Homo sapiens: one gene and its partners. The protein of the gene in region 2 interacts with the protein of the main gene of each other region in a biochemical or structural test. Each region holds a gene or a part of one and is shown on either strand. Other genes may lie near its edges.

Region 1 (4,238 bases), on a different chromosome or scaffold from region 2:
AAGTCTTCCTGAATCCCTGTCTATGAAATAGTAATTCTATATTTTATATAAAAGAAACTATATATGTGTGTATACACGTGTGTGCATGTGTGTATTTTAGTGAAGAGAACAGGAAACTTAACACTTTATTGTTCATCTGTCCTACAAATAATAGCCACAGTCCTCCCCTTTAGGAGATGGGATTTGAACCCAGAGCTCACTGATTCCAAAGTCTGCAAGCTTCATCCCTAGGCTGTACTGCCTCCCAACAAATAGCAATATCCTTCAGATCTTTTTTTCCTTCCTTTGTGTTCCATGAAGTTCCAGTGTTTTGAATAAACAGTTTTAAGAATCAAGAAGGGAGATCCATGCATGACATCTCCCTTCTTTCATACTTTCATTTCTAGGCATATTCAGGGAAACAATTTCTCAAAATTCTTTCATTATCAAAACACAAGGAAGTAAAAGACAGGTTCTAATAATCTCTGTCTGGCCCAGGTAACTATTTCAAGGGGAAAAAGTCTTGACAAAACAAATCTTTCCGCTGCGATAGAGGTTAAAGTATACAAAGAAATGCTATACAAGTGGAATGCTGGCCGAGCGCAGTGGCTCACGCCTGCAATCCCAGCACTTTGGGAAGCTGGGGCAGGTGGATCACCTGAGGTCAGGAGTTTGAGACCAGCCTGGCCAACGTGGCGAAACCCCATCTCTACTAAAAATACAAAAATTAGTCAGGCATGGTGGCAGGTGCCTGTAATCCCAGCTACTTGGGAGGCTGAGGTGGGAGAATCGCTTGAACCCAGGAGGCGGAGGTTGCAGTGAGCTGAGAATGCACCACTGCACTCCAGCTTGGATGACAGAGCAAGATTTCATCTCAAAAAAACCCCCAAAACCAAAAAACAAACAAACAAACAAAAACCAAGCGGAAGGCTTAGAATTAGCCATTACCAGTCTCTGCTCAGACAGAAGCAAATTATTAATGAGATGAGATAGCACAGAATTTTCACTCTTTAGCCAGAATCCTAGGTAGAATACAAAATAAAAGCAGCACTATAACAGCTAAAGTAGCCCTAACCTATCTTACCTGAAAAGCCAGAAAATTTCCGGGGATTGGTACTGGTGACAAATGAGGCGCCTTTCACTGGAGAAGTCACCTGGCCAGTGGTTGTCAACTTAGCCTGGACAACAGCTTTCTTCTTTGGTGTACCTGCTGCCTTAGAAGACAGATCTGTAGGATCCCAAAAGAGTATAAAATATCCTTCAGTGAACGATCTCTGAAAAAAACATCCAAAGAATCTATCAACTGCTCCTAGGGCCTTGCTTGTTAAGTCACTACCCTAGCACTAGCCCAAGGCTGGCTGGTGGCTGGTATTTTTTGAGTGGGGGTAGTAGGTAATAGGGTATTGTGGGGACAGAAGGGAAGGATATGCTGGAGACAAAAGATCCAGTTACCATTTATCTCTATTAGTACCTTAAATTTTCATCAACATTCTCCACTTCTTATCCCATATGTAAGTCTCCAGAAATAACAATTTGGGGGAAATCAGAAATCATAGTTTGATGGATAAAACTTAGGGAACCCCCAACCCCACAGAATTAGCTTCAATTTAGAGATGAACAAAAAGTAAATGAGGATCACAGAGCATGTCAACCTAGCATAGGAAGGAAAATTTCCAGATGCTTAGTTATCTGAGTCATGAACTCTACCTGTATTTCTCTTCCTCCAAATGAGAGATGGGTCAAGAAGTAACAAAGGCCGAGGCCAATAGCTAAGGCAGTGCAAGGTGGGATGGGGAGCCTGAGAATAAAGTATATGGGAAGCACAGTTTTCTTTCCCGGAAGTCTTTTTTCCTTTCAAAGAACAAGGACAGATACCCATTTTTAGAGCCATTGTTAACTGTCTTCCTATGGTGACCAGAACTAAGTTGAAGATATGAACATTATTTTACAGACACTGAAGGTCAAAGAGGACTAACTGGATTTGGGGGTATTGGCATAAAATTTCTAAAATATGCATATGTAAATATGCATGTACATGCAAACATGTTATATATAGCCATATATAGGTATGAATTTTACATGCATATACACGCACATATTTTCTAGCTCTGTCTGCTGAAAGGGCTTAGAAACAGACATGCCATGGCTGGGCGCTCAGGCCTGTAATCCCAGCACTTTGGGAGGCCAAGGTGGGTGGATCACTTGAAGTCAGGGGTTCAACACCAGCTGGACCAACATGGTGAAACCCTGTCTCTACTAAAAACACAAAAATTAGCTGGGTGTGGTGTCAAGTGCCTGTAGTCCCAGCTACTTGGGAGGCTGAGACAGGACAATTGCTTGAACCTGGAAGGCAGAGGTTGCAGTGAGCTAAGACAGTGCCACTGCACTCCAGCCTGGGTCACAGAGTGAGACTCTGTCTCAAAAAAAAAAAAAAGAAGAAACAGATACCCCATGACAATGTGTTCACATAGTATCCGGGTTTTACTCTTTAATACCATTTCCCACTAACAGGATAGTGCCACTACACTCCAGCCTGGGTCAGAGTGAGACTCTCAAAAAAAAAAAAAAGAAGAAACAGATACCCCATGACAATGTGGACACATAGTATCCAGGTTTTACTCTTTAACAGGGGCATTTCCCACTAACAGGAATCCCCAGAGAAATTACCAATTTCAGGGCTGGGGAAGGATACATACGGGATAAGACTAAAAGCATCTTGCTATGCTCAAGAGTAAAGAAGTACATTAAAAAAAGTTAATGAAGGTATACAGGACACAGAGGACAGTGTAAAGGGGTTCCTAATTGGCCAAATATGGGACAATTAAGTATCAAATTAGTTAAGTACAGTAATGAATTATATGCTACAAGAAAAAAAGTAAAAGAGGATAGTAATCAGTACTCTATTCTTCCAAAATATCAATGTCATAAAAGAGAGACTATGGAAATATTTCAGATTAAAGGAGGCCAAAGAAACATGACAACTAAATGCAACACCTGATATGATCCTAGACTGGGATCCTATACTGCAGGAAAAGGCTACTGAAGGTATGACTCAATCCATTGACAAAATAGTATACAGATGGTAGATTTAAGTATTACATCAAGGACAAATTTTCTGAAGATGATAGCTATATTATAGTCGCATAAGGGTCATATATCCTATTCTTAAGGTATATACACTGAAGAATTTTAAAGGGCCATGATGTATGCAACTTATTCTCAAATGGTTTAAAGTGAGTGCACGCACACGTGTGTATGTATGTAGAGAGAGACAGCACATGAACAAATATGATAAAGCAAATAGAGTAAAATGTTAATAGGTAAATATGGGTAAAAGGAATATGAATGTTCTTTGTACTATTTTTAATCTTCCAACACTTCAGTGAGTTTAAAATTATTTCCAAATAAAACGTTAAAGGCTGGGCATGGTGGCATGCGCCTGTAATCCCAACTACTTGGGAGGCTGAGTCAGGATGACCTGAGTCCAGCAGTGCAAAGCTGCAGTGAGCTACGAATGCAACATTAAACACTGGCCTAGGCAACAGAGTGAGACCCCATCTCTAAAAGAGCAAAGTTAAAAAAAAGAGAAAGAAAGCAGTTGAACTCCTTATCCCTTTTTCTCTCAGCACCAGTAAGATGAGAAAGCAGTGTTCTCTACCTTACCTGCAATGTGCTGGGTTATCTGTTCCTTCTCATTATCTTCCAGCTCTTCCCAGCCTTCCAGCTCTGTGAGGTCCTCGATTTTTTTTGTGGTGGCCCGGGCCCGCTCTAGTTTCTCAAACATGCATTTAATGTGGTACCACTCTTTCATATCACCCCCAGACTCTGAGAAGGGATTGGGCACCACTTTGCCAATTCGGCATACGCCCTTCACAATCTTTTCCTTGCATTTTTTGCAGCCAGCTGTGCCACGCTTGGCATAGTCCACACAGAACCGTTGCTCAGCCATCTCACAGGGGCCACTGCAGAGTCCCACATGCAACCCTGGCAAGAAAACAAGGTAGGTGGCACGTGATCTTAGATGGCTTCCCTGGAATGATAGAACAGGCTTTCTTCTCAGGAAGAGGGGATGTCCATGAAGCAGATCTGTTTCTGACCACTGGCTGAATTGTCTTACATCACGCCAGTGATGTTTTCGGAATAGGCACAGTTCTTTTCGGCTGAGTGCACGGAGGGTTTGTGGAAAGAAGATCTTGAAAGCCAAAGACATATAGCTGTACGAAAGAGTAGGAGGCCAAAAAAAAAAAAAAAAGATATAA
Region 2 (4,238 bases):
CACAGAATCAAGGCCAGCTCTGTAGCTTGTCCTCAGAGCCCTCTGTGATGCGGCTTTGCTGGCCTTCTGCAGCCTTTTTCTGCCACCCTTTTCTTCCTTCTCACATACCCCTCTCCCCACCCCACCGCCAGTCTTGCTCATTCTTTTTAGGAGTACCTAGCAATAGGGCGCCTAGCCAGGGCACCCCACATGCCACCGTGTGCTACTCAGATGGCTGTGCTTAGGCAGTCCCCTGTGTTTTCAGCTCCCAGTGGGCTTAGCAGATCACTGCCTCCAAGTGCATGCTAGCATTCCCTGTCTCACATCACCTTGGCACACCTCTGGCATAGCTTAGCTCCTTTGTTAAAGTTCACCTTCCTATAGCTGATGCTCAGTCACGAATGAGATACTTTCTGAAGAGCAGAAACTGTCTTTTTAACCAGACTATGGTTGGTAGCACATATTAGGTGGTCTGTGTGTGTCGGAAGCAATCTGTGACCTCTTGTATCTAACTGACATCCTGAACACAGGCATAGCTGGAAAGGGCAGTTTCTTGATTGGATGAAGACCTGGGAGCACAGTATCTTTCCCTGAGCTTCATGTATTTGATACTTATTGAGTGACCATTTAGAGCAAGGCCCCTTGTAAATCAGTCAGAGTGAAGAGTGAATTGTGCTGATGGAAGAATTTATAGTGAATACCATAGGGCTCCCTGCATTCATTTTTCCTTCTTCTAAAAAGGAAAGCAAATACTGTGATTTCCTTTTGGGTAATAATCTCCCAGTGTGTATATAGTATTCGGGGTCTTGGAGTTCTGGAGTAGGCATGTGATCCCACAGAGGCCTATTAACTCTCGAAGGGAGCAACTCAGGAATGAGGCCAGGGAGGTTGTAGTCATACAGCAGTTCCAGTGGTGGTTCCCTGACCGAATTGGCCACTGGTTTCTGTTTTTGTTTTTTTTAGGGAAAGATTTTTCTCTTAAAGCAGCCACAATATTAGCCCTATTATAAATGTAAAAGTACCGGAAATAAGTACTGTAGCAGCAATAATACTGTCTTTCATCCTTAAAGCCTCACATTTTTCTATTTTTTGTTACTCTTTATTGTAAGAAGAAAAAAAGAGATTATTTGATTTGGACAAGCCAAATCCTCTTTGGTCTATGGGGTGGTTACCTCAAGGGAGAGCTGGCTTCTTAACTAAAACTTAATATTTTTTAGGAATTCCGAGAAATCTCTTACCTCAAGAAATTGAAGGTTAAAAAACAGGACCGTATATTCCCCCCAGAAACCAGCGCCTCCGTGGCGGCCACGCCTCCGCCCTCCACAGCCTCGGCTCCTGCTGCTGTGAACTCCTCTGCTTCAGCAGGTACAGCATTTGGGACCCCGGTCTTAGAGCTGCTTTGCAGGAATTGTTTGCCCACTACTTGCTGGTGGTGTGGAGCTGGTGAAGAAAGTATCCGTCAAGGGTCTCTCTTTGCTGACCCCACCATGGGGAAGCCTTGCCCTGCAGGGGATAGGCCTCTTCTCTTGGCTTGTTACACCCCTGACCACAGCAAGGTGGGAGAGTGTTAAGAACATAGCATCGGCTGGGAGCAGTGACTCACACCTGTAATCCCAGCACTTTAGGAAGCTGAGGCAAAAGAATTGCTGAGGCCAGGAGTTTGAGACCAACCTGGGCAATGTAGTGAGACCCCATCTCTACAAAAATGTTTAAAATTAATCCGAGTATGTGCCTTTAGCCCTAGATACTCAGGAGGCTGAGGCGGAGGATCCCTTGAGCCTGGGAGGTCAAGGCTGCACTGAGCTATGATCACGCTAATGCACACCAGCTTGGGCGATGGAGTGATACCCTATCTCTAAAAATAAAATAAACATTGTAGAAGAACAAGCAGCTCTTACTCTGGGAGGCTAGGAGAGGGGCTCCTAAGAAAGGCTAGGTCGACAGCCTTACCTGGAGTTGGGCGCAGGGTCTCCTGCCTGACTGCACTGCAGAGGAGCATCCCAGGCCTCACTCTCCAGGCTGCCCTGCGCCCACCAGTCATCCGGGCCCTGGTGTGATGCTCAAGTCTCTGTTGTATGCAGAGGGAGTTACTAATCAGCACTAGTGAGAAATGCCCCAAGCCAACCAAGACAGTGAGAGCAACGTATTTTTTTGGCAGGAGAAGTGACCCGCTGCTTGTTTACTCAGAGACATGTGGCATAGTCTATTGGTGAAGGTCACAGTTTGGTGGGTGGAGGATGAGGGTTCCTTCCTTGAACATAAACCTGTTATTGACTTCCTTTTCATATCCTGAGAGGGGACCAGTGGTCACTGCAGTGTGTGCTGGTGGTCATCCCGAGTCCACTGTGCTGCTGGCAGCCTGGGTCCAGGTGCCCACATGAAGGGCCAGTTGGGGGCTGGCATTCTGACCCCTCCATGGAGGGTTCCCTCCTCTGCTTTCCCCTGACTTGCAGTTCAGCATGAGTCAATAATTTTGTTCTCTGGAGACCTCAGCAGTTTCAGTTAAACTGTCAGTGTTTCCTAGTTGTTTGCCCTCACAGGGAAGGCAGGAAGGACTTTTCCTTGCAGCTACTCCAGTTCTGGACGGGTGTCACCTGCACTGTGTTGTTTGCTGTGAACAGAAGGCACACCCCTGTCCAGGCCTTTCTGGCCTGGGTCAGTGCACACCAGGCTGCTGCTTTTCTCCTAGAATCAGTTAGCTCAGCTCCGTGTGATTGTGCTGGCCACTGCTTTGAGGGACTATCATGGACATGTCTCATTTTAAAATGGGGTTAATTCATAAGAATTGCAGTTTGTTTGGGAGAATAACAGAAGGAATTGGGGGTTCATGTGACCTTACCCCTCTTCCCATCCGACTCCAGCCTCCTGGTCCCTCGTCCGCAGATGCAGCCTTCCTAGCCTGACCTTGGCGCGGACCTGGGGTAACCCGCAGCTGCCTGGCTCACGCCGCGAGGCTGGCCTGGCCATGGAGTGGCATTTTGTGGCTTGCTCCCTGCCCAGTCCTTTCTGTGCTGAGGGACATCTGTAGGTACTCAGGTGGCAGCTTGCTGTCCCGTCCTGTTTTCTCGCGAGTGTATTTTCATAGGCTTTTCCCAGGAGCTCGCTGCTTGGCTCACCTGCTCCTCCACCTCCCCTTACTGGGGAGCAGCACCAGAGCTGGCCTTGCTGAATGATTCTCTCCTTTCATCCCAGATAAGCCATTATCCAACATGAAGATCCTGACTCTCGGGAAGCTGTCCCGGAACAAGGATGAAGTGAAGGCCATGATTGAGAAACTCGGGGGGAAGTTGACGGGGACGGCCAACAAGGCTTCCCTGTGCATCAGCACCAAAAGTGAGTTGAATCTGAATTTGTGCAACAGGGACAATGCTTCTGTATCTTATGATTGTGATGACGAGTAAGTGAGGAAGAGTCGAACACAGCGCTGAAAAACTGGATCTTAACATCATCATCGCTGTGGTTCTTTATGAAGGGAAACCAGTATTTGCTCTCAGTGTTGCTGCTTTGTACTGTAGATTCACATGCATTGCGTGTTCTCAACTAAAGACGGTAAGCTACTATAGGTTGAGTCTCCCTAGTCCCGAAGCCCAAACAAATTGCCTCAAAATTCAACACTTTTTGAGTGACAACATGATGCTCAAAGGAAATGTTCATTGGAGCATTTCAGATTTCAGAGTTTTGGATTAGATGCTCAGTCAGTAAATATGAAGCAAGTATTTTAAGGTCTGAAAGGTTTCTGGTCTCAAGCATCTCGGATAAGGGAAGCTGCTCAACCTGTATTCTCATCACTTCGCACTGCTCTGTAAGATGTGCATAGATATCTGCCAAAACAGAAGTTCAAGGTTCAAGTATGTTTGGAAAAGGTAGGGTAAAACAAAGCTAAACAGGTTTCTGTGTGGGTTTATTATGCTGATTACCACTGTAGGTCTTCAGGAACCAGAGAAATAGAATACAGGATTTCCCATACATATTTGACATCAGGGTGTTTTTTCTTTGGAGTGTTTGTTAACATCGTGCTGTAGAATGGTTTGGAGAAGGCTGCCCTGGCTCATCATACCTTAGAAAAGGGGGAATGTTGCTGATAAAAACACTCTTGGGAGCATTAGACTTGGAAGCAAAGGAGAGCTGTGAATGCTGAGGGTTTGGAAGTACACACTAAATATAACTGTAGTAATTTGAAGTTTCAGTTTTGTTTTAAACTTGTATTTTGGTTTTTTTTCCTTTCAATTTGAACAGAGGAGGTGGAAAAGATGAATAAG
Region 3 (4,238 bases), on a different chromosome or scaffold from region 2:
TGGGCTGATCTGAGGTGGGCTGTGATAGGATGTGATGGGATAGGACGTGATGGGCTGGGATGGGCTGAGATAGGATGGGGATTTGAAGATGGGACCCACATTGTAAAGGCCTTTACACGAAGCCCATCAAGATGAGAGATGAGGAGTCTGGATTTCATTCTGTTCAGAGTTGGAGATTTCTTAGCAGGGAAGTAGAGTCCTTAGAATTCTCCTGGAGGGATCACTCTGGCAGAGGTGTGGACAATGGAGCTCAGGCGGGAAAGCATGGAGGCCAGGTGTTTCTCAGATAGAAGCAGTGAGGCCGAGACAAGAGGCCAAGGGCACCCCCAGGACTCTGTGAAGAACTGGAACTGGGGAGAACCTGGATTCCCACTTCCTAAGTCAGAAAACTGAGGCAGGTCCCAGAAGAGGAAGATGCTTGCCTGCCAGGCTCCAGTACGAGGCTCGGGTCAGCTCTAAAGGCAATGAGCTCCTTTTTGTGTCTCAGGAGGAACACGATGCTATCCAGAGACAGGCTTATGTCCCAAGAGAGAAGTATAAAATACTCATTGTGGGGCCACAAGAACCACATTCCAGCAGCCAGAACCAAGGGGCTGAGCTGTGGCAGGCCCCGCGTGTGTGCCATGCATCATGATTCTCAGAATACTTCCAGCCAGGGATCCGTTTTGAGCCTCGCTAGAACTCACATCGATATCTCCATTTTACAGGGGTGAAAGGCAGGCTACCAAAGGTGGCTCACCTGGCCCAAGGTGACACAGCTGGCAGGTGGCAGAGTCAGGAGGTGAACCCAGAAGGGCTGGCCCTAACGCCCCATCATCTTGTGATCTTTCTTTTTTTTTCTTTTTTTGAGATGGAGTCTTGCAATGTCACCCAGGCTGGAGTGCAGTGGCATGATCTTGGCTCACTGCAACCTCCGCCTCCCAGGTTCAAGCGATTCTCCTGCCTCAGCCTCCCAAGTAGCTGGGATTACAGGCGCCACCACCACGCCCAGCTAATTTTTTTGTATTTTTAGTAGAGACAGGGTTTCACTATGTTGGCCAGGCTGGTCTCAAACTCCTAACCTCGTGATCCGCATCTTGTGATCTTTCTAGAAACACAACATTGTTCCACGGTCTCAACCTGGTTTTTTGGTGGGAAAGAAACAGGAGCTCTTGGCCAGAATAACAAAACAGAGAACAAAGCACGCACTCCCCGCTCACCTGTGTGTGTGCGGACGTGCCTCTTCAGGTCGAAGGTGTCGTTGAAGCCCTTGCCGCAGAAGGTGCACAGGTGTCTTTTCACCTGGTTGTGGCACTTGAGGTGACGGTTCAGCATGCGCTGCAGACGGAAGCCCTTGCCACACAGGTCACAGCTGTGAACCACCGAGTCGCTGCACGTGCCTGTGGTGAACTGGGGGCAGAGAGAGGCCATGAGGGTCCCCGGGCAGGCAGGCACATCCAGTAGGCTCACTCAAGAGACCCACCTCCCTGTGTCTTGAGGCTGCCCTGTCTGCGGCTTCTGCCCCTAAAATTTTCAAGCAGGTTTTGGCTTTGGGAAAGGTGAAGTAACAACTGGCAGTTCCTCCCACCCTTTTTTTTTTTTTTTTTTCTTTTTGAGATGGAGTCTTACTTTTTTTGCCCAGGCTGGAGTGCAGTGGCTCGATCTCAGCTCACCGTAACCTCCACCTCTTGGGTTCAGGTAATTCTCCTGCCTCAGCTTCCCAAGTAGCTGGGACTACAGGGGCACATACAACCACGCCTGGCTAATTTTTGTATTTTCAGTAGAGACAGGGTTTCACCATGTTGGCCAGGCTGGTCTCAAACTCCTGACCTCAAGTGATCCATCCGCCTCAGCCTCCCAAAGTGCTGGGATTACAGGCATGAGCCACCGCACCCAGCCAGTTGCTCCCACTTTTTATTCTCCCCTTCTTCCTTAGAACAAACCTCTGACTTCTAGCTGGGCATACTGTCTTACAGCATCCTACAGGCATGTGATGGGGTATGAATGTTAGGCCCCTCCAAATGTCTTGTTGAAATGTGATCCCCAGTGTTGGAGGTGGGGCCTCGTGGGAGGTTACAGGGGCAGATCCCTCATGAATGGCCTGGTGCCGTCCCCGTAGTAAAGAGCGAGTTCTTACTCTCATCAGTTCATGGGAGAGCTGGCTGTTTAAAAGAGCCTGGTGGCCAGGCGCGGCGTCTCATGCCTGTAATCCCAGCACTTTGGGAGGCTGAGGTGGGTGGATCACCTGAGGTCGGGAATTTGAGATCAGCCTGACCAACGTGGAGAAATCCCATCTCTACTAAAAATACAAAATTAGCCAGGCGTGGTGGTGCATGCCTGTAATCCCAGCTACTCGGGAAGCAGAGGCAGGAGAATCACTTGAACCCAGGAGGCAAAGGTTGCGGTGAGCCAAGATCGGGCTATTGCATCCAGCCTGGGCAACAAGAGCAAAACTCCGTCTCAAAAAAAAAAAAAAAAAAAGAGCCCGGCACTTCCTCCCCTCTCTCTTGCTTCCTCCCTCACCATATGACACGCTTGTTCCCCTTCCGCCTTCTATGAGTGGAAGCTTCCTGAGGGCCTCACCAGAAGAAGACACCAGCCCTATGCTTCTTGTATAGCCTGCAGAACCATGAGCCATAAACCTCTTCTCTATAAATTAGCCAGTCTCAGGTATTCTTTATGGCAACGCAAAATGGACTAAGACAGCATGGCCATGGACTACCTGGCCAATGAAATAGAAATCTCCTTGAAGGGGAGCAAACGGTGCCTTCTTCCTCCTCCACTCCTTCCTGCTGACTAGAGCACCAACAGTCACCTTGGACCATGAGGTGGGAGGAGCAGAAAGGAGTCTGGGTCCTCATGACATCATGGAGCCTGGTATGTTATATTACAGACAGTACCCAAAGAGAGCCACACTCAATTCTGTCCTCCTTGTGCCTGCATCCTGCTCCATTTATCAAGAGATGGAGACTGTTTTCCCTCCCCTTGAATCTGGGCAGGGCTTATGACCAGTTGGATCAACAGAATGCAATGAAGATGTGTCAGTTCCAGGTTTTAAGAGACCTTGTAGCTTCCATTTCTTCCCTCTTATAAGCCAGCTGCCACATAAGAAGTCTGAGGCTACCATGCTGTGAGGAAGCCCAAGCTAGCCATGTGGACAGCCAAAGGCCACATGGGGGAGCACGGAGGAGCCAGATATGAATAAAGCCTGATTGGACTCTCCATCCCAACTCAGGGCTGCCACCAGCTGAATGAGTCGCCCCCACTAACACTACCCAGAGTAGAACTGCCTAGCAGAGCCATGCCTATGGCTTTTGTCTTGACCCACGAAATCATAAACGCATAAAATTATCATTTTGTAAAGCGGCTTGGTCAGTACCCACAGCTTTGTTATCAGCAAAACCACAACCAGACCTGGGTCTGGACTCCCTGCCCAGTGCTTTCTACCACCTTCGCTGCTGCTAAGGAAGAACATAGAATCTACATCTGGGTGATAAAAATGATGTGTTCAATTTTAGTATCTGATTTGGTAACTTTTGAACATGTGATGTGAATGTTACCAAATCAGATCCTTTAGAAGATGGATCCCATTGCTCTGCCAAAATTCATCACTAGCAAGAAGACTGGTCCTCTCCTGGCTCCACACTCTCCCAGCTTCAAATACTCTCCTCTTTCATCCACCCTGGGTATTGCCCTCCCAGGACTCAAGGGAGCTCAGTTGCTCCCTTGCCGATGCAGCCTTCTCCAAATACTGCAGCCCATGACTAAACTGCTCACTGTCCCACTTAAACCAGTGCCTCTCAGACTCCAGCATACCTATGCCTCCCCTGGGGTCTTGTTAAAATGCAGGTTCTGATTCAGGAGGTCTGGTAGGGTCTGATGTGCTGCATTTCTAACCAGAGCCCAGGAGATGCCACTGCAGCTGATGCACACGCCACACTAGCCCTGAGAAGTCATGCTATATTCCATCTCATTCCCAAGTTTCACTATGCACACAGTTCATCTTGTTTTCTCAACTCAACACTTTGAGGATGGTCAGCAAGCATTCGGTCCCATTCCTGCCTCCCTACCCACTGCTCCAAGCCTAGTCTAGGGCCAGTGCACAATCAGTATGTGCTGACCGGCAGCTGGGAGCAGGTGGCAGGATGCAGAGAGTCTCAAGGGAGGCACAAGACCCCAGAACAGGGTATTCCAGTCAGCCTCCTCCACTAGTTCATTTTCCTTTGCTTGGAGCTTAATTTGCCCCAGCTAACATTGAT
Region 4 (4,238 bases), on a different chromosome or scaffold from region 2:
TTTCAAAATTTCTCAAAAATATATTGCAGTCTTTAGGCCATAGATTTTACGTTCTCCATTTCCTCTAACAGATGTCTGGTTTTTGTTTTGTATTTTTCCCATTGCCCTCAGGTTTCAAGTTCAGGCCCAGACAAGAAGCAGGACACTGGTAAGGTGACTCCATTTGGTGAAATGCGACTGCGCTTGTGTCAAGGGAGAGAAGAGCAACCCAGTCAAGCTCCTGCCCAGATGCCAACTCCCCTAGGAAAAGGAGAGGAAGGGAGACGAAGTGCACCTGCGGACAGAAAGCTCTGAACGACCCTGCAGTAAGCCTGGGATCCTCTAATTACCCTGGAACAAATGCCATGGCTCCGATTCTTGTATGGAGTAGTCTGATTATATTTCACCATAAGAATCTGACATAGAGTATGGGTTTGGGTTTTTCCTCAGGTATTTGATAGCTTGTTAGGAGCAAAGTCTGATGGGAAAACAAGTTTATGCCTGCACAGAAAAACAGTTCCCAGTTGAGATAAAATGATTAAACTTTGCTTTAGCAGTTTATCAGATTGAAACATCCCCGTACCTTTCACCTTCCACCCCACCCCAAACAGCTATGTTCTTTTGCTGCTGTGTTGCTTTAATTACAGAACAAAAGCTGTAGCCTCAGCACAAACATCATGCTCATCTCTTCAAGTAACTGAACCTGAAGAGGGAGAATTCTTTCTGCCTCTCTCAACAGAATATTGGGTGGGAAGATATGACTTTTGCTCTCAAACATACTGACTTATATCCTAATTCTCTTAAATTTTCTTACATTATTCCTTTACCCTAAGTGAGGCCAAACCAGTCTTAGCGGCCAGAAGGCCCCTGTGAATCCACATTATTATACAAAAAGCACAGGATGGGATGTTAAATTTTAAGTTAAATAAAAATATATTGAGGGCAGGCGCGGTGGCTCACGCCTGTAATCCCAGTGTTTTGGGAGGCCAAGGTGGGCAGATCACGAGGTCAAGGGATCAAGACCATCCTGGCCAACACGGTGAAGCCCTGACTCTACTAAAAATACAAAAATTAGCTAGGCATGGTGGCATGCGCCTGTAGTCCCAGCTACTCAGGAGGGTGAGGCAGGAGAATCGCTTGAACCTAGGAGGCGAAGGTTGCAGTGAGCCGACATCGCGCGACTGCACTCCAGCCTGGGTGACAGAGCAAGACTCTGTCTCAAAAAATAAATAAAATAAAATAAAATAAAAATATACTGAAAGTTGAAATAAAATGAAGAAAAGGAGATGAGTGATACTGAAGAAATCGCCTACCCTGAGCTTCATTTTACAGACAAGGACAATAATAGGACTTGTCCTTACTATCTCACAGTTATTTTGATAATCCAAAGAGAAAATGTATTTGAAAGCACTTTGGAAACAGGGAGACATGATAGAGATATTAATTGTAACTACAATCAGAGATGGGCTTAGATAGCCCAAAACACCTAGCAGCTCCATTTTGATAAATGGAGGAAAACAGCCTCTTAGTAGAATATACTGGGTTACACAGTCTGATTGAATCTGCTATTGTGTTTAGAAGTCAACAGTCAAATCAGATCTGTTAGGAGCCTGCCGTATCGTTTCCCTCTATAAACAGGTCGCTCATGTCAACACCTATGAGTGGGTGTCTGTGCATGGAGAACATGCCGGTGCTTTGCAACTGCCTGCCATCCTCGGTAAAAGCAGCCACAGAAAGACTCACCTAGTTCTTTCCTGTATTCCTTTATGTCTTATTTTTCAACAGAAAGTGAAAAGAAGGAATAAAGATAACATTTTTGAGCACAGAGAAATCTAGTTTGGGTCTCTCTTGAGCACTGCAGAATGGAATATATTCTTAACCAAAGGAAGGTATAATGCGGGGTAAAAGTGCTAATCCTGAGTTTTGCTCCCCTCCCCCAGCGTCTGTGCCAAGGGTTAGAGCTGATGACCACAGGGAAAGGATGGGCCTGGGTTAGAGAGGGCAATGGGCTTCTAGGCTTACAGTCAGCTGAAGGGCACTGCTGACTGCTGGTAACTGCAATTTATTTTAAGAAAAAATTCAAAAAAATAAGCACAAAAACACCCAAGTTTGCCGCCTGCTGCTGTTTCTATACTCAGCCAGGACTGTGGTACATGAGTCACTTGGTCCAAAAAGGTTGGAAGAGGCTGTTAGGGGAGGCCATGTCATTATAAGGTTGCAACATAGCGTCCTGATATAACCCCAGTTCCTGCTCCAGATGTAAAAGGTATGATGCACTACTGCAATTCCAATTCAGTTAGTGGGCAGAGAAATCTGTCTTATTAATACGGTCTCAGACGCTAAGCTTTCCCGGGATGTGATGAGGTATTATGGGGCATGCATCAAGGCAGTGTGTATTAAGATTGCAGAAAACAAAAACAAAAACAAAAACAAAAACTATTCTTGGGTTGGCTGTGGGCACTGCTTGTTCAACCAGGGCATGGGTTTGAGATAAGGACCTGGATTAGAATGTTGCAATCCAAGAAGCTTCAGTGGTACAATCTTGCTGAAGATTAATATCTGAACCCCCAATATGTAGAAGAAAAAGAAATTACACTCATCTAAGAGTACCTGCTGTATGCTGAGCAGTGTACTAGGCACATTCCCACATACGTCCTACAGTAGGACACCCACAGATAAAGGCATTGACGTCCCACCATTGGGTGAGCCCCCTACCTACTCTCACAGCAACCCCACATAACCTCCACCTCTCTCTGTTTCCACATATTTACCTTTCTGCAGGATCTCTAGATGTTCCCATAAGATGTCCCCAACAAAGTCTGGGGCCAGCTCGAGAAAGCAGTCTTTACCCAGGGCGCAGAGGGCTGCTCCATTCATACAGAACTTCTGGAAGTCTACACCTTTCAGGCTGAATTCATTCACAGCCCACATCACCCAGTCCCGAACATGGGTTTCTGTCCACTGCCGGGGGTCTGAGGAAAGAGATCAGATGAAGATCCAGCAGGTCGGGCTTTTAACTCCTATCCAAGCCTCAGAGAGGACACTGAAGGAGCTGAATTTAGCTGAGAATGCTATCTTTATTCATCGAATGAGGAAGCATCAGCCTAGCCTGCACATCATTGAGTGCCTTCCATAACCCTCCCCTCCATATTCAACATCTCCGCCTTCTCTATTTCACCAGCTAGGAGGTCACTACTGCCAGCCAAAAAGTACCACATGAGTATTCTCTGTCCTTGCAGGCAAAGATTTCCATGAATCTCCTCTCTCACTGCCTTATTCCCATTGGACTTTTTTAAAGCCCTGAACAGAACAAATGGCTTCTTTAATAGCAATAATAACAAGAGATTGCTCATGCCTCTCCCTGCTCTTAACTATAATATACTTGAGACTATTATTCTCGATTATTTTTTATCTTAGCCAATTATAGTGGTAACAATTGTAGCAATTAGTAGTAGTCATTCATTCAAATGGCACTTGGTAATAACATTATTAGGTGCCTGTATTATACCAGATACTCTGCAAAGTCTGTACTTATCATAAGCTATAGCTTGAGTAGCACTGTAGTATTGATAACATGCAATCTTCATACATGACCTGAGGTTTAACCTGGCTACACCCACCAATGACACTTAGAAGTTCAGATGACAGCAGGTGTAATGCCCAACATCAGAGCTGTTCCAAGAGATCCAGAAGTGATTCTAGTGTGCAGGCAAGTTTGAGGACCACTGTCTTCATACCAAGATGGCAAGAACAAGCCCAGGAGACGGGGCAGCCTCAGTATGTGTGTCATGATTGTCCTAACAGATGGCAGCCATGGCCCATAGCTGCTGACTCCAATGTGGTTAGTGTAACGTCTGCCTCACACACTCCAGGTGAGAAAATGTGTCTTCCCAAAGGGTCTGACCCCAACCACTCTTTTTCCAACTACAAAACCATACCTTTTGGGATCCCCAGTCGTTGCTGTTCTTTAGTGAAACCACTGAAAGTAGCTTTTAATGCTTGAGACATCATTTCTTTGCTGCTTGGAGTTAATAGTGGGACATCTGCACATTCCATATCTGCATGAAAAAATTGCATATGAATAACAAAAATTACATAGGTAATGAACCAATCATAAAACATTACAAATGGGCTGTAAGAAGGCAAGCTGAGAAACAACTGTGCTAGCATCCTCACCAGAGCACCAGAGCAGGCAATTTTTTTTTTTTTTTTTTTTTTGAGACGGAGTCTTGCTCTGTCACCCAGGCTGGAGTGCAGTG
Region 5 (4,238 bases), on a different chromosome or scaffold from region 2:
TACAATACTAAATTTCACAAACCTGCTCAGCATAGAGGTCATCTCGGTCATGCATATGCTGATGTTTCCCCAAGTCCGTGGTTATCTCTCCCACTTCTGTGTAGAACTGCACATCCGTGTGCCGCTTCTTCCCAAACATGATGGCATTCTGTCGGCATAAAACAGAAAGAACACAGAAGTCAGAAACACAAAGGTATCTGTGATGGAAATGGCAGTGATCCAAACTTGGGCCTCCACAGCATGCATGCAAAAATAATTAAACCACCCCTGGTGTCATCATAAATAATGATGCTTGGGAATGGAAACAGTGTACATTTGAAAAAGTGCTGTGCTCCTACTTATTACAGGAACTTTGGAAATCATGTTGGTAACAAATCTTATCTAAAGCAAAACTTCATTTTAGAAAGAGAAATCTGGAGATCTCGTATAAAACATTTGCTGGCCACCATATAACACACCAAAGGAACAAACATGCTTATGAGCCCCTTCTAGATGCCAGGCCTTGTGGCCTTTAGAGGCATTATTTTATTTAATCCTCTTAAATGTTCTTAAGTGAGAGGTGATTTTTTCATCACTTTTTTGTTTTTTGTTTTTCACACGCTGTCGCCCAGGCTGGAGTACAATGGCGCGATCTCGGCTCACTGCAACTTCCGCCTCCCAGGTTCAAGCAATTTTCCTGCCTCGGCCTCTCAAGTAGCTGGGATTACAGGCGCTGGCCACTACGCCTGGCTAATTTTTGTATTTTTAGTAGAGACGGGGTTTCATCATGTTGGTCAGGCTGGTGTCGAACTCCCGACCTCAGGTGATCCACCCACCTCGGCCTCCCAAAGTGCTGGGATTGTGGGCATGAGCCACCGCGCCCAGCCCTTTCATCACTATTTTATAGGAAAGAAGCTGAGTGAAATGAAGTGTCTTGCCCAAGAGCTGACAGCTAGTTAAGTAGAAAGGTATACCTTGAGGTGAAAGTGCAAGACAATAATCATTTCTCCATCACAGGGCTGGAACAAAGCATGCTTAATATTATTGTACAAAATATCCACTTTGTCTCCTCGAACAGATGTGAAGCGGAAGCCTGGGGAAAAGAATGAAGAAATGTCAAGCAGTATAATTAAGTTAGGCCAAAAGGCACTGCAACTCTTCTGGCTGATTTGCACAGGGTCAGAGGAAACACCAACAGCTGTATAGAGCTTTCCTTTCCTTCTGGCCACACAGCAGTGTAAGTAGATTCCTCCCAGCATTTCCTTGTCATACTTTATTAGCACCATGCTTTAACCAACTGAGCTAACCGGCGGATGGCTCTTTGTCATATTTTATTATCTGATCTGTCATTCCTAACAAATGTGCCCTGAAGAGAAAGCCTAGGTACAGGAGAGATCATCCATACCATTGACATGGGCCTCCAGTGAGCCTTGCATCCTCTTTTGGGCAATATTTGGGCGAATGTATAGATCTTTCAGTTTCGGATTACTCCGGTTTAGATTGATCACCAGTGAGTCTTGTTTTACAATCCCCTAAGCAAGAAGAAAATTAATGTGAATTGTCACATATCCTTACAAGTCTCCAAAAAATACATGTCCTTCTTTGTGTAAGAATGTTTTGCCTGTGTTCAGGCTCACCTCCTTCTCTTTCTCTTCAGCTTCTCGAGTTTTATAACGTTTCTGTACTTCTTTAATAATTCGGAAAGCATTCTGAAGGTTCAAGGCTGGTACTGTCTGTTCTCCGGGTGCCTTAATATTTGATGCTCGGTATGTACTGCAGAAAAGCAACAGCATTTATAGACATTTCTTTTTCAGGCCAGGGAAATTGTACTGATTTACTTTATCTTCTAAGCAGCTTAATCTCTACTTTGCTTTTTTTTTTTTTTTTTTTTTTTGAGACAGGGTGTGCCTCTGTCACCCAGGCTGGAGTGCAGTGGCCCAATCTTAGCTCACTGCAACCTTCGCCTCCTGGGTTCAAGCCATCCTCCCACCTCAGCCTTCCAAGTACCTGGGATTACAGGTACACACCACCATGCCCGGCTAGTTTTTGTATTTTTAGCAGATACAGGGTTTTGCCATGTTGACCAGGCTGGTCTTGAACTCCTGGCCTCATGTAATCTGCCTGCCTCTGCCTCCCGAAGTGCTGGGATTACAGGCGTGAGCCACCATGCATGCCCATTCCTTCTTTTTTCATTTTTCAAATCTGGTATAACATCCCCAAATTATCCCATTTCACACCATGAAATCATAGAATCCAATGTGGCACCAGTTTTCTTATTTGAAGATTCTACTGCAATATATGTTTATTACTTTTAACACTTATTTTCATAATTATTTTTTTTTTGAGACAAGGTCTCGTTCTGTTGCTCAGGCTGGATGGAGTACAGGCAAGATCAGGGCTCACTGCAGCCTCAACCTCCCAGGCTCAAGGAATCCTCTCACCTCAGCCTCCACAGTAGCTGGATGACGGGTGCACACCACCACCCCTGGTTAATTATTTTTTAGAAGAGACAAGGTCTCACTATATTACCCAGGCTCAAAATATGTTTAGTAAATATATAGTATCTTCAAGAAGATTCTAAATTGGGATCCATCCTGAAAATAGTACAAAGTCAAGAAGGCGATCCGAAACAAGTACCAATGAGGAAGGCTTTGACATTTACTAGGTAGGGAAAATGTAGCACAGACAATGAAATGTTTCTGAGAGTACCACTCCAGACAAGATGAATCTGGGTATGACTTTTCTTGGGGACTCACATTTCCTTGACAAAAGTCGCTTCAGGGTTAGGAAAGATGTTGCCTTCATTCCTGCCCAGAGCACTGCCTGGGCAATAAAAGTTGATTCGCAAGTAAGTATAATCTCCTTCCACGGACATACTTATATTCTGTTCAAAGGAAAAGCATAAAAAGTAAACAGATTTCTTTCCTAGAGATTAGTAGTTACAGAGATGTTAAAATTAAGTTAGGAGTTACAAATTGACCGCTCTTAACCTTAATCTAAATCTAATAAATTTACATAATTTATCTTTTTAATAACGAAGTATCCTTTTCCCAAAAAAATCTCTGAATTCTCAAAGTACCTTGTACCATGAATACAACTAAAAGTTAAACAATGATTAAACGAAGTTGAAAGAAAGATAGGCAAATTATGTTTCTAGACTAGTTTAGCTTTCTACTAAGTGAAAAAAACTGAAAGAGGAAGGAGAATGACAAGACAAGAGGGATGTCAGTAACTGAACAGAGTCTGAAGGAGTCAAAAGTGGGAGACATGATGAATGCAGATTATTTATGGCAAATACAATTACTATTTTAAGCAACAGTTTGGATGAAACCTGATGCACTGAATGTCAGTACCTTGATTGTGGCAATGTGAAACGGTGTTGCAATGCCAAACACGGGCATTATTACAGTCTCATATTTCTTATCGATGTAGATCTTCATTTCCCGAATATGTGGTTCCTTAGGCATCAGAGATGGGTTTTTATAGGACACATTAGACTTGCGAGCTCTGGAGTGGGATAAAAAAACAACTGAGAAATTTCTGCAGTCCCACAGAACCCTCAGATGATCTCACTGCTCAGTGAAAACTCTTACTTCTGAATCTGCTGTTCTCCCTTTTGTTCAGTCAATCGCCTCTTTGCTTCTTCATTGAGTTGAGCCGCTAGTTCTTTCTGATGTGCTCTTCGCTTCTCTTCTGCAGTCATTTCATTCTGGTGAATGGAAAATCCAATTTATCACAACACGTGAGCCATATGACAGCCGAGATCAATGTAATTTAAAATAGTAAACTTACTCTTGTTCTTTCTGTAAGTAATGCTGCCCGAGAACCTCTTCCCAAAAGGTCCTCTGCCTCATCTTTCTCCTCCTCCTCTTCTTCCTCATCTTCATTCTATGGAAAAAGTCATAATCAAAAAATGAAATTTTAATTATTTTAGCCAATATTATTTAACTTCTTTATATCCTAAACTTCCTATACTACTTATCTATCTTCTTCCTACCTTTAGGAAAATCCCCACATTCTTCACTTTCTTCTTCACAGAAGTGAGAACAGTAGCTGGGCCATCCTAGAATTAAAAGGAGAATGAAGACACATTATTTAAAAGAGGCAATTTCATTTTCTAACCTAGTAAACGGCTGGGCAATGCTTTGAATCTTTTGGACACTAAAATGTTTGACAATGAATAAATATAGTTTTTATCCTTCTAACCTCTAACCTCTCGTCAGGAGCTACAATTTTTTTTCTTTTTCTTTTTTTTGAGA
Region 6 (4,238 bases), on a different chromosome or scaffold from region 2:
CGCCCCCATGGCTCATGCCTGTAATCCCAGCACTTTGGGAGGCCAAGGCAGGCGGATCACAAGGTCAGGAGATCGAGACCACCCTGGCTAACACGGTGAAACCCCGTCTCTACTAAAAATACAAAAAATTAGCTGGGCGAGGTGGCGGGCACCTGTAGTCCCAGCTACTAGGGAGGCTGAGGCAGGAGAATGGCGTGAACCCAGGGGGCGGAGCCTGCAGTGAGCCAAGATTGTGCCACTGCACTCCAGCCTGGGCAACAGAGCAAGACTCCATCTCAAAACAAAAAAATAAATAAATAAATTTTTTTGGCCAGGTGCAGTGGCTCACGTCTGTAATCCCAGCACTTTGGGAGGCCGAGGTGGGCAGATCACACAGTCAGGAGATGAAGACCATCCTGGCTAACAAGGTGAAACCCTGTCTCTATTAAAAATAGAAAAACTTAGCCGGGCGTGGTGGCACACGCCTGTAGTCCCAGCTACTCGGGAGACTGAGGCAGAATTGCTTGAACCCAGGAGGTGGAGGTTGCAGTGAGCCAAGAATGTGCCACTGCACTCCAGCCTGGGAAACACAGACTGACTTTGTCTCAGAAAAAAAAAAAATTTTTTTTTTTTTCATTTTCTCTTTTTATGGCCAGTAAAATATTCCCACATAATTTTTAAATTTTTGTAGAGATCGGCTCTCGCTTTCTTGCTGAGGCTGGTCTCAAACTCCTGGGCTGAAGTGATCCTCCTATCTTGGCCTCCCAAAGTGCTGGGATTATATGCATCCAGCTCTGAGTCTTAAATCCTAAAAAAAAAAATTAACCTTTGCCGGGCATGGTGGCTCACGCTGGTAATCCCAGCACTTTAGGAGGCCGAGGCGGGCAGATCACGAGGTCAGGAGATCGAGACCATCCTGGGTAACACAGTGAAACCCTGTCTCTACTAAAAATAAAAAAAGATAGCTGGGTGTGGTGACAGGTGCCTGTAGTCCCAGCTACTCGGGAGGCTGAGGCAGGAGAATGGCGTGAACCCAGGAGGTGGAGTTTGCAGTGAGCCAAGATTGCGCCACTGCACTCCAGCCTGGGCAACAGAGTCAGACTCGGTCTCAAAAAAAAAAAAAATTAATCTTCTTCCTCTTATCTCCAAATCTATTAATTTTTCTTTATATTTGTAAGAAACTGGCTGGGTCAACTCACCTTCCTTCACTGTCTTTACAGTAGGGGCAGGTGCATGCTTCCCGCCGGGTCCTCCGACCGGCTTGGGGTTGGGCATCTGGGCTGTTTTCTCCTTCCTCTCCACCTGCTGTGTCATCATGTATTCCATCACCACCAGCCCCATGGAGACCAAGCTGAGCTCCATGATCACCTGAAATTAAGAGAGAAAAGGGTCAACATGTGACATGGGCAGGTTATCACTGGCATCTCAGTGATACCCTACAGTCACAACATCATTTCTTTTGAACTGACATCCTACATTCACAGTATCACAAGTTTTGAAGCCTTTTTATGTTTAGCCATTCCATTCACTGACACCTGAAGACTCACTGAAATCTCAAGAATCATCATTGAAAATACCAAGAGTGGCTGGGCGCAGTGGTTCACGCCTGTAATTCCATCACTTTGGGAGGCCGAGGTGGGCGGATCACCTGAGGTCAGGAGTTCAAGACCAGTCTGACCAATACGGAGAAATCCCGTCTCTACTAAAAATACAAAATTAGCTGGGAATGGTACGCATGCCTGTAATCCCAGCTCCTTGGAAGGCTGAGCCAGGAGAATTGCTTGAACCCGGGAGGCGGAGGTTGCAGTTAGCGAGACTGCACCATTGTACTCCAGCCTGGGTGACAGAGCAAGACTCTGTCTCAAAAAAAAAAAAAAAAAAAAAAAAGAAAGAAAATACCAAGAGCCAATAAATACGTAAAAATCTGATCAAATCTCATAGTTGTTTTTTTTTATTATTATACTTTAAGTTTTACGGTACATGTGCACAACGTGTAGGTTACATATGTATACATGTGCCATACTGATGTGCTGCACCCATTAACTCGTCATTTAGCATTAGGTATATCTCCTAATGCTATCCCTCCCCCGATCATAGTTTTTAAAATGCAACTCCACTTATAACGCATTTGTAATTTTTCACCTATCAGATTACCAAAAGTTGAAACCCTAATAACATACGGCATTGGTAAGGGTACAGGAAAACAGACCCTCCCTCTCTCTCTTCCTTCCCTCCCTCCCTCCTTCCCTCCTTCCTTCTCTCTCTCTCTCTTTTCTTTCCTTTCTTTTTTTGAGACAGAGTCTCGCTGGCTCTGGAGTACAGTGGCATTATCTGGGCTCACTGCAACCTCCATCTCCTGGGTTCAAGTGATTCTCCTGCCTTAGCCTCCCAAGTAGCTGCAACTACAGGTATATGCCACCATGACTGGCTAACTTTTTTGTATTTTTAGGAGAGATGGGGTTTCACCATGTTGGTCAGGCTGTCTCGAACTCCTGACCTTAGGTGATCCACCCGCCTCGGCCTTCGAAAGTGCTGGGATTACGGGTGGGCATGAGCCACCATGTCCAGCCGGAAAGAGACATTTTCATACACAAATAGTGATAAATTAATACAACTTTTTGAAGGCCAGTTTGAAAATATTTAAATGTACATCTAATTTGAACCAGCAATGCCCATATATTTACATGTGGTTCTGCCTGTAACCTCAGCACTTTGGAAGGCTGAGGCAGGAGAACTGCTTGAGATTAGGAGTTCAAGACCAGCCTGGGCAACATAGGGACACTCTGTCTATAAAATAAATAATAGGCTGGGCATGGTAGCTCACGCCTGTAATCCCAGCACTTTGGGAGGCCGAGGTGGTTGGATCACTTGAGGTCAGGAGTTCAATACCAGCCTGGCCAACATGGTAAAACCCCCATCTCTACTAAAAATACAAAAACAAAACAAAAAAAATCAGCTGGGTATGGTGGAGTACGCTTGTAATCCTAGCTATTCGGGAGGCTGAGACAGGAATTGCTTGAACCCAGGAGGCAGAGGTTGCAGTGAGCCGAGACTGTGCCACTGCACTCCAGCCTGGCCGACAGAGCGAGACTTCGTCGCCAAATAATAATAATAATTAGCTGGGCATGGTGGCATGCGCCTATGGTCCCAGCTACTCAGGAGGCTAAGGTGGGAGGAAGATTGCTTGAGCCAAGGTGTTTAAGGCTACAGTGAGCTATGATCACATCACTGCACACCAGCCTGGCCAACAGAACAAGATTCCAACTCAAAAAAATATATATAAATAAACAGTGTATGCTAAAATGCTTTAGACTCTCATCATGACTCAGTTGGTCACATTTGACATTTTCAAACACAGCTCTAGGCCACTGGTAAAAAGTGACAGATAATATTCTTTTTTTTTTTTTTTTGAGACTGAGTTACACTCTTGTTGCCCAGGCTGGAGTGCAATGGCACAATCTTGACTCATTGCAACCTCCGCCTCCTGGGTTCAAGCGATTTTCCTGCCTCAGCCTCCTGAGTAGCTGGGATTACAGGCACCCACCACCACCCCTGGCTACTTTTTGTATTTTGTTGTATTTTTTTAGTAGAGATGGGGTTTCACCATCTTCGACAGGCTGGTCTCGAACTCCTGACCTTGTGATCCGCCCGCCTTGGCCTCCCAAAGTGCTGATTACAGGCGTGAGTCACCGCACCCGGCTGATAATATTCTTCGCAAAAGTAATATCTTATAAAGTGGCAGATAATATTCTTCTCAAGACTTCTTTCCTTTTTTTTTTTTTGAGACGGAGTCTCGCTCTGTCGCCCAGGCTGAAGTGCAGTAGCGCGATCTCGGCTCACTGCAAGCTCCGCCTCCCAGGTTCACGCCATTCTCCTGCCTCAGCCTCCCTAGTAGGTGGGACTACAGGCGCCCGTCACCACGCCCGGCTAACTTTTTGTATTTTTAGTAGAGACGGGGTTTCACTGTGTTAGCCAGGATGGTCTTGGTCTCCTGACCTCATGATCCGCCCGCCTCGGCCTCCCAAAGTGCTGGGATTACAGGCGTGAGCCACCGTGCCCGGCCTTTCCTTTTTTTAAGGAGACCGGGTCTCACCATGTTGTCCAGGCTGATCTCGAGCTCCTGGGCTCAAGTGATCCTCCCGCCTCAGCCCCCCAAAATGTTCTGTTGTGATTATAGACATTAGCTACTGCTGCCTAGCCTTTCTCAAATTTTCAAAGCATTTACTATAAATAAGTATTAGTCTATCACAGCATCTTGT
Region 7 (4,238 bases), on a different chromosome or scaffold from region 2:
TGCAAAGCCCTTTGTCCCTGAAGGGTCTCGACTCAGCTCTTGGGGACACTTTTGTCCAATCTCTCTACACAGGGAAGAAAACACAGCCATAGCAACATAGATCAATTATTCAGTTCCCAGTAAGGGAAGGTAAGACAGGTATCTAATATCTGAAGGAATCTACTGTTGCACAGATAATGTATTTCCAATCTTTCTTTATTCCCTCCCCAAGGAAAATAAGCATGAGAAACTTCGAGAAGGAAGAGTCACCTTACAATCTCTCCCACTATGCTCTTCATTCCATAGTCAGTTGCCCATAGACTCACGGCTGCAACCAGTACAGGTGCCAGGTGTTCAAAGTGCTGCAGCATCTGGATGATCTTCACTGTAGCACCTGTGGAAGCATTAAACATGAGAAATTATGGGCAATACAAAAAAGGCGGGGCAAAGCGACTGGTAACTTACTGAGCATATGGTTATAACGGGTCAAGGCTACACCAAGCAGGTGTGTTATGGCTTCCCGAGTGGGGCGGTTCTTCTGGTGATTAATGGTGGGATTCTCCAGAAGGCGGTAGCAACAGCCAGTAACCAAACTGAGAAAGGAAGAGTTTGAGATGATGAAAGCAGCTGTCTGAATCCAATTGTATCAGAGCCCTGCCTCATTCATTCTATCCCTACTGCTCCCAAAGTCAGGGTTTTCTTTATTCTAGCCATTACTTTCTATAACAAGTTGCTTTGCTTTGCTGACCCCAGTTAGGTACTCCTTCCTTCAAGATTACCAACTTTCAACCAGTTGTGATGCTGACAAAGAACCTAAATATATCATAAAAATATGATAGAGTTGGCCGGGTGTGGTGGCTCATGCCTGTAATCCCAGCACTTTGGGAGGCCGAGGCAGGTGGATCACGAGGTCAGGCATTCAAGACCAGCTTGGCCAACATAGTGAAACCCTGTCTCTACTAAAAATACAAAAAATTAGCTGGGTGTGGTGGTGGGCGCCTGTAATCCCAGCTACTTGGGAGGCTGAGGCAGGAGAATCCCTTGAACCTGGGAGGTGGAGGTTGCAGTGAGCTGATATCATGCCACTGCACTCCAGGCCAGGCGACATTGCGAGACTCCATCACAAAAAAAAAAAAAAAAAAGACAAAGTCACCAATGACTTCTCATTCCTAAATATAACGACTGATTCAATCTGCATCTCAAGTGGTCTTTCACAGCTGCATGTGATACAGTTAATCACTCACTTTCTCCTTGAAATATATGCTTTATCTCGCTTCCAGGACACAAGAACAAGACTCCTTTCTCAGTTTCTTTGGCTAGTTCCTCCTCAGACTCTTTTTTTTGAGACAGGGTCTGCCTCTGTTGCCCAGGCTGGAGTGCAGTGGTGCAATCACGGCTCACTGCATCCTTGACCTCCTCATAGCTCAGGTGATGCTCCCACCTCAGCCTCCACCATGCCCAGCTAATTTTTCTATTTTTTGTAGAGACACAGTTTCACTATGTTGTCCAGGCTGATCTCAAACTCCTGGGCTCAAGTGATCCTCCTGCCTCAGCCTCCCAAAGTGCTAGGATTATAGGCGTGAGCCATGCACCCGGCATCCTCACTCTTAATGCTGGAGTGCCCTAGGGTACCAGTCCTTGGATTCCTGCTCTTTTAGCTACACTTACTGATTTGGTAATTTCATTCAGTCTCACGGCTCTGAATACTATTATATTCCCAAATGTGTTATCTCTAGCTCAGACCTCTCTCCTGAACTCCAGATCTATATATTCAACGTCCAAATCTGACTTTACGTGGCTAATAAACACCTCAAACTTTGTATGTCCAAAACAGAACATCTGATCTTCCTCCCAAAACACCTATTCACAGCCTTCTCCCTATCTCAGTTACCATTAACTCCAGTCTTCCAAATGCTCAGACCAAAACCCGGGAGAGTCATCCTTGACTGAACTCTCCCTCCCACCTCACACCCAGTCTGTTAGCAAATCCTGTAAGCTCTACCTTAAGGAAAAAGTATAGAATCCAACTACTTCTCCCCATCTCCACTGCCACGCCTTGGTCTAAGAGACCATCATCTCTTGCTTGAGTTATTGGAACAGCCTCTTAACTGGTCTCTTGCTTCCCCTTTCCCTCCATAGTCGATTTCAATACAACAGCTAGGATGGCCCTGTTGAAGTACAAGTCAGGTCACCTCACCTCCCTGCTTGTGGCTCCCCAGTGGCTCCACTTCATTCTGAGGAAATGCCAAAGTCACCATGATGGCCCACAAGAACCTGCGGTCTGGCTCCCCACTGCTCCCATGGCCTCACGGCCTAACCCTCGTACCTGCTCTCAGCTGTCAGCTCTCTGGCCTCCTTGCTATTGCTCGTACGTGCTGGACATGCTCCCTCCTCAAGGTCTTTGCATATGCTATTCCTTTTCCCTGCCCTTGCTATTCCTCCACATATTCTCATAGCTCTCAGTCACCTCCTCTGGGTCTTTGCTCAAATGTCACCATCTCAAAGAAGTCTTACTAGAGTAGCTTGTCTGTCTGTTTGTCTGTCTGTCTATCTATCTATCTATCTTTTTTTTTTTTTTTTTTTTTGGAGATGGAGTCTTGCTCTGTTGCCCAGGCTGGAGTGCAGTGGCGCGATCTCAGGTCACTGCAAGCTCCACCTCCCGGGTTCACGCCATTCTCCTGCCTCAGCCTCCTGAGTAGCTGGGACTAGAGGCGCCCGCCACCATGCCCGGCTAATTTTTTTTTGTATTTTTAGTAGAGACGGGGTTTCACCGTGGTCTCGATCTCCTGACCTCGTGATCCACCTGCCTCAGCCTCCCAAAGTGCTGGGATTACAGGCGTGAGCCACCGCGCCTGGCCCTATCTATTTTTTTTGAGACGGGATTTTGCTCTTGTCGCCCAGGATGGAGTGCAATGGTGCGATCTCAGCTCATTGCAACCTCCCTCTCCCAGGTTCAAGTGATGCTCCTGCCTCAGCCTCCCAAGTAGCTGGCATTACAGGCACACACCACCATGCACAGCTAATTTTCATATTTTTTTAGTAGAGACAAGGTTTCACCATGTTGGCCAGGCCGGTCTTGAACTCCTGACCTCAGGTGATCCACTCGCCTCGGCCTCCCAGAGTGCTGGGATTATAGGCGTGAGCCACCGCACCGGGCCTAGAGTAGCTGATTTAAAATCACAACCTTCTTCCATCAAACTTATTTTACTTATTTTAAAAATAGACTTCTGGCTGGGCGTGGTGGCTCACACCTGTAATCCCAGCACTTTGGGGGGCCAAAGCAGGGAGATCACCTGAGGTTAGGAGTTCAAGACCAGCCTGGCCAACATGGCAAAACCCGTCTCTATTAAAAATACAAAAATCAGCTTGTGGTGGCGGGCACCTGTAATCCCAGCTACTCGGGAGGCTGAGGCAGGAAAATTGCTTGAACCCAGGAGGTAGAGGCTGCAGTGAGCCGAGATTGAACCACTGCGCTCCAGCCTGGGCGACAAGAGTGAAGCTCTGTCCCCCCACAAAAAAAAAACAAAACCAAAAAAACGGCATATCTATCAACAGAGCCTCACTCTCACAGCTCAGTATTATCTGTAGCCATCCTCCCTACCCACCTGACAAATTCTTCTTCAATTATTGAGTGGTTCCACAGGTGACGGATGTCCAACTGAAGTAGCTGTGTTAAAAGCTGAAGAATTGGTTGCCTCTCTTCTTCCCAGTCAAAGCCATGGGCTGCCTTGGTCCGAGCTTTCTTACCCTAAAAAGGATCATGTATACATTGAGGAAAAAATAAGGGAAAAAAGTGGGTCAAGATCTGTCAGTCTGAGTGCCCAAACAATCTAGTACCAAGACAACATAGAAGGTAATACGGAAGAAATATTACAAGTTCCACAGCGCTACTTGTCCAGGAAGAAAACGTGTGACACTTTTGAGTTCTTTCTCCTAAATTCTCAATGAGGACAGAAAGGATTTGTGGATCATTGGATTCCCTTCTTTTCCATCTATTCCCCTATCTCCCCAGACCCCATATAACGTGAGCCCAAAACTCCAAATTACCTTCCCACCAAGGTCCAGGTCCACAAGGTTTGTCTGGCTGGCCATGGTCTCAAAGGATTCCAGGAGACGTATCAGAGCATAACAGTTCATTTTGAGGGCATTTAGATGGGCGTTTCTATCTGATCCACTCAAAGTTGTATCATCCAGGATAGCTGGAAGCTCCTGGGAGTGGCGGGATACCACTGTGAGGGGCAGAATCTTGGAGTCAGTTT

What was found.
Region 1: the proteins of PARP1 (region 2) and LIG3 form a complex in vitro, tested with the Homo sapiens proteins (one study listed by BioGRID).
Region 3: the proteins of PARP1 (region 2) and OVOL2 form a complex in vitro, tested with the Homo sapiens proteins (one study listed by BioGRID).
Region 4: the proteins of PARP1 (region 2) and ETS1 form a complex in vitro, tested with the Homo sapiens proteins (one study listed by BioGRID).
Region 5: of the proteins of PARP1 (region 2) and SUPT16H, one has a biochemical effect on the other in vitro, tested with the Homo sapiens proteins (one study listed by BioGRID).
Region 6: of the proteins of PARP1 (region 2) and SP1, one has a biochemical effect on the other in vitro, tested with the Homo sapiens proteins (one study listed by BioGRID).
Region 7: the proteins of PARP1 (region 2) and NCAPD2 interact in far-western blotting, tested with the Homo sapiens proteins (one study listed by BioGRID).

Annotation. Positions count from the first base shown.
Region 1 is NC_000017.11:34,982,957-34,987,194, reverse strand, and holds part of LIG3 (DNA ligase 3 isoform alpha precursor), read right to left. Parts: intron 4,194-4,238; coding exon of another isoform or gene 4,190-4,193; coding exon 3,643-4,189; intron 1,208-3,642; coding exon 1,064-1,207; intron 1-1,063. UniProt on the Homo sapiens protein: Isoform 3 functions as a heterodimer with DNA-repair protein XRCC1 in the nucleus and can correct defective DNA strand-break repair and sister chromatid exchange following treatment with ionizing radiation and alkylating agents.
Region 2 is NC_000001.11:226,380,142-226,384,379, reverse strand, and holds part of PARP1 (poly [ADP-ribose] polymerase 1), read left to right. Parts: intron 1-1,196; coding exon 1,197-1,344; intron 1,345-3,171; coding exon 3,172-3,312; intron 3,313-4,215; coding exon 4,216-4,238. UniProt on the Homo sapiens protein: Poly-ADP-ribosyltransferase that mediates poly-ADP-ribosylation of proteins and plays a key role in DNA repair.
Region 3 is NC_000020.11:18,040,335-18,044,572, forward strand, and holds part of OVOL2 (transcription factor Ovo-like 2), read right to left. Parts: intron 1,390-4,238; coding exon 1,200-1,389; intron 1-1,199. UniProt on the Homo sapiens protein: Zinc-finger transcription repressor factor. Plays a critical role in maintaining the identity of epithelial lineages by suppressing epithelial-to mesenchymal transition (EMT) mainly through the repression of ZEB1, an EMT inducer.
Region 4 is NC_000011.10:128,486,540-128,490,777, forward strand, and holds part of ETS1 (protein C-ets-1), read right to left. Parts: intron 4,038-4,238; coding exon 3,918-4,037; intron 2,952-3,917; coding exon 2,751-2,951; intron 1-2,750. UniProt on the Homo sapiens protein: Transcription factor. Directly controls the expression of cytokine and chemokine genes in a wide variety of different cellular contexts. May control the differentiation, survival and proliferation of lymphoid cells.
Region 5 is NC_000014.9:21,359,462-21,363,699, forward strand, and holds part of SUPT16H (FACT complex subunit SPT16), read right to left. Parts: intron 4,043-4,238; coding exon 3,977-4,042; intron 3,868-3,976; coding exon 3,772-3,867; intron 3,689-3,771; coding exon 3,573-3,688; intron 3,487-3,572; coding exon 3,333-3,486; intron 2,864-3,332; coding exon 2,736-2,863; intron 1,753-2,735; coding exon 1,617-1,752; intron 1,512-1,616; coding exon 1,385-1,511; intron 1,073-1,384; coding exon 954-1,072; intron 149-953; coding exon 23-148; intron 1-22. UniProt on the Homo sapiens protein: Component of the FACT complex, a general chromatin factor that acts to reorganize nucleosomes. The FACT complex is involved in multiple processes that require DNA as a template such as mRNA elongation, DNA replication and DNA repair.
Region 6 is NC_000012.12:53,403,694-53,407,931, reverse strand, and holds part of SP1 (transcription factor Sp1), read right to left. Parts: intron 1,348-4,238; coding exon 1,179-1,347; intron 1-1,178. UniProt on the Homo sapiens protein: Transcription factor that can activate or repress transcription in response to physiological and pathological stimuli.
Region 7 is NC_000012.12:6,510,599-6,514,836, reverse strand, and holds part of NCAPD2 (condensin complex subunit 1), read right to left. Parts: intron 4,209-4,238; coding exon 4,027-4,208; intron 3,728-4,026; coding exon 3,585-3,727; intron 573-3,584; coding exon 445-572; intron 374-444; coding exon 250-373; intron 65-249; coding exon 1-64. UniProt on the Homo sapiens protein: Regulatory subunit of the condensin complex, a complex required for conversion of interphase chromatin into mitotic-like condense chromosomes.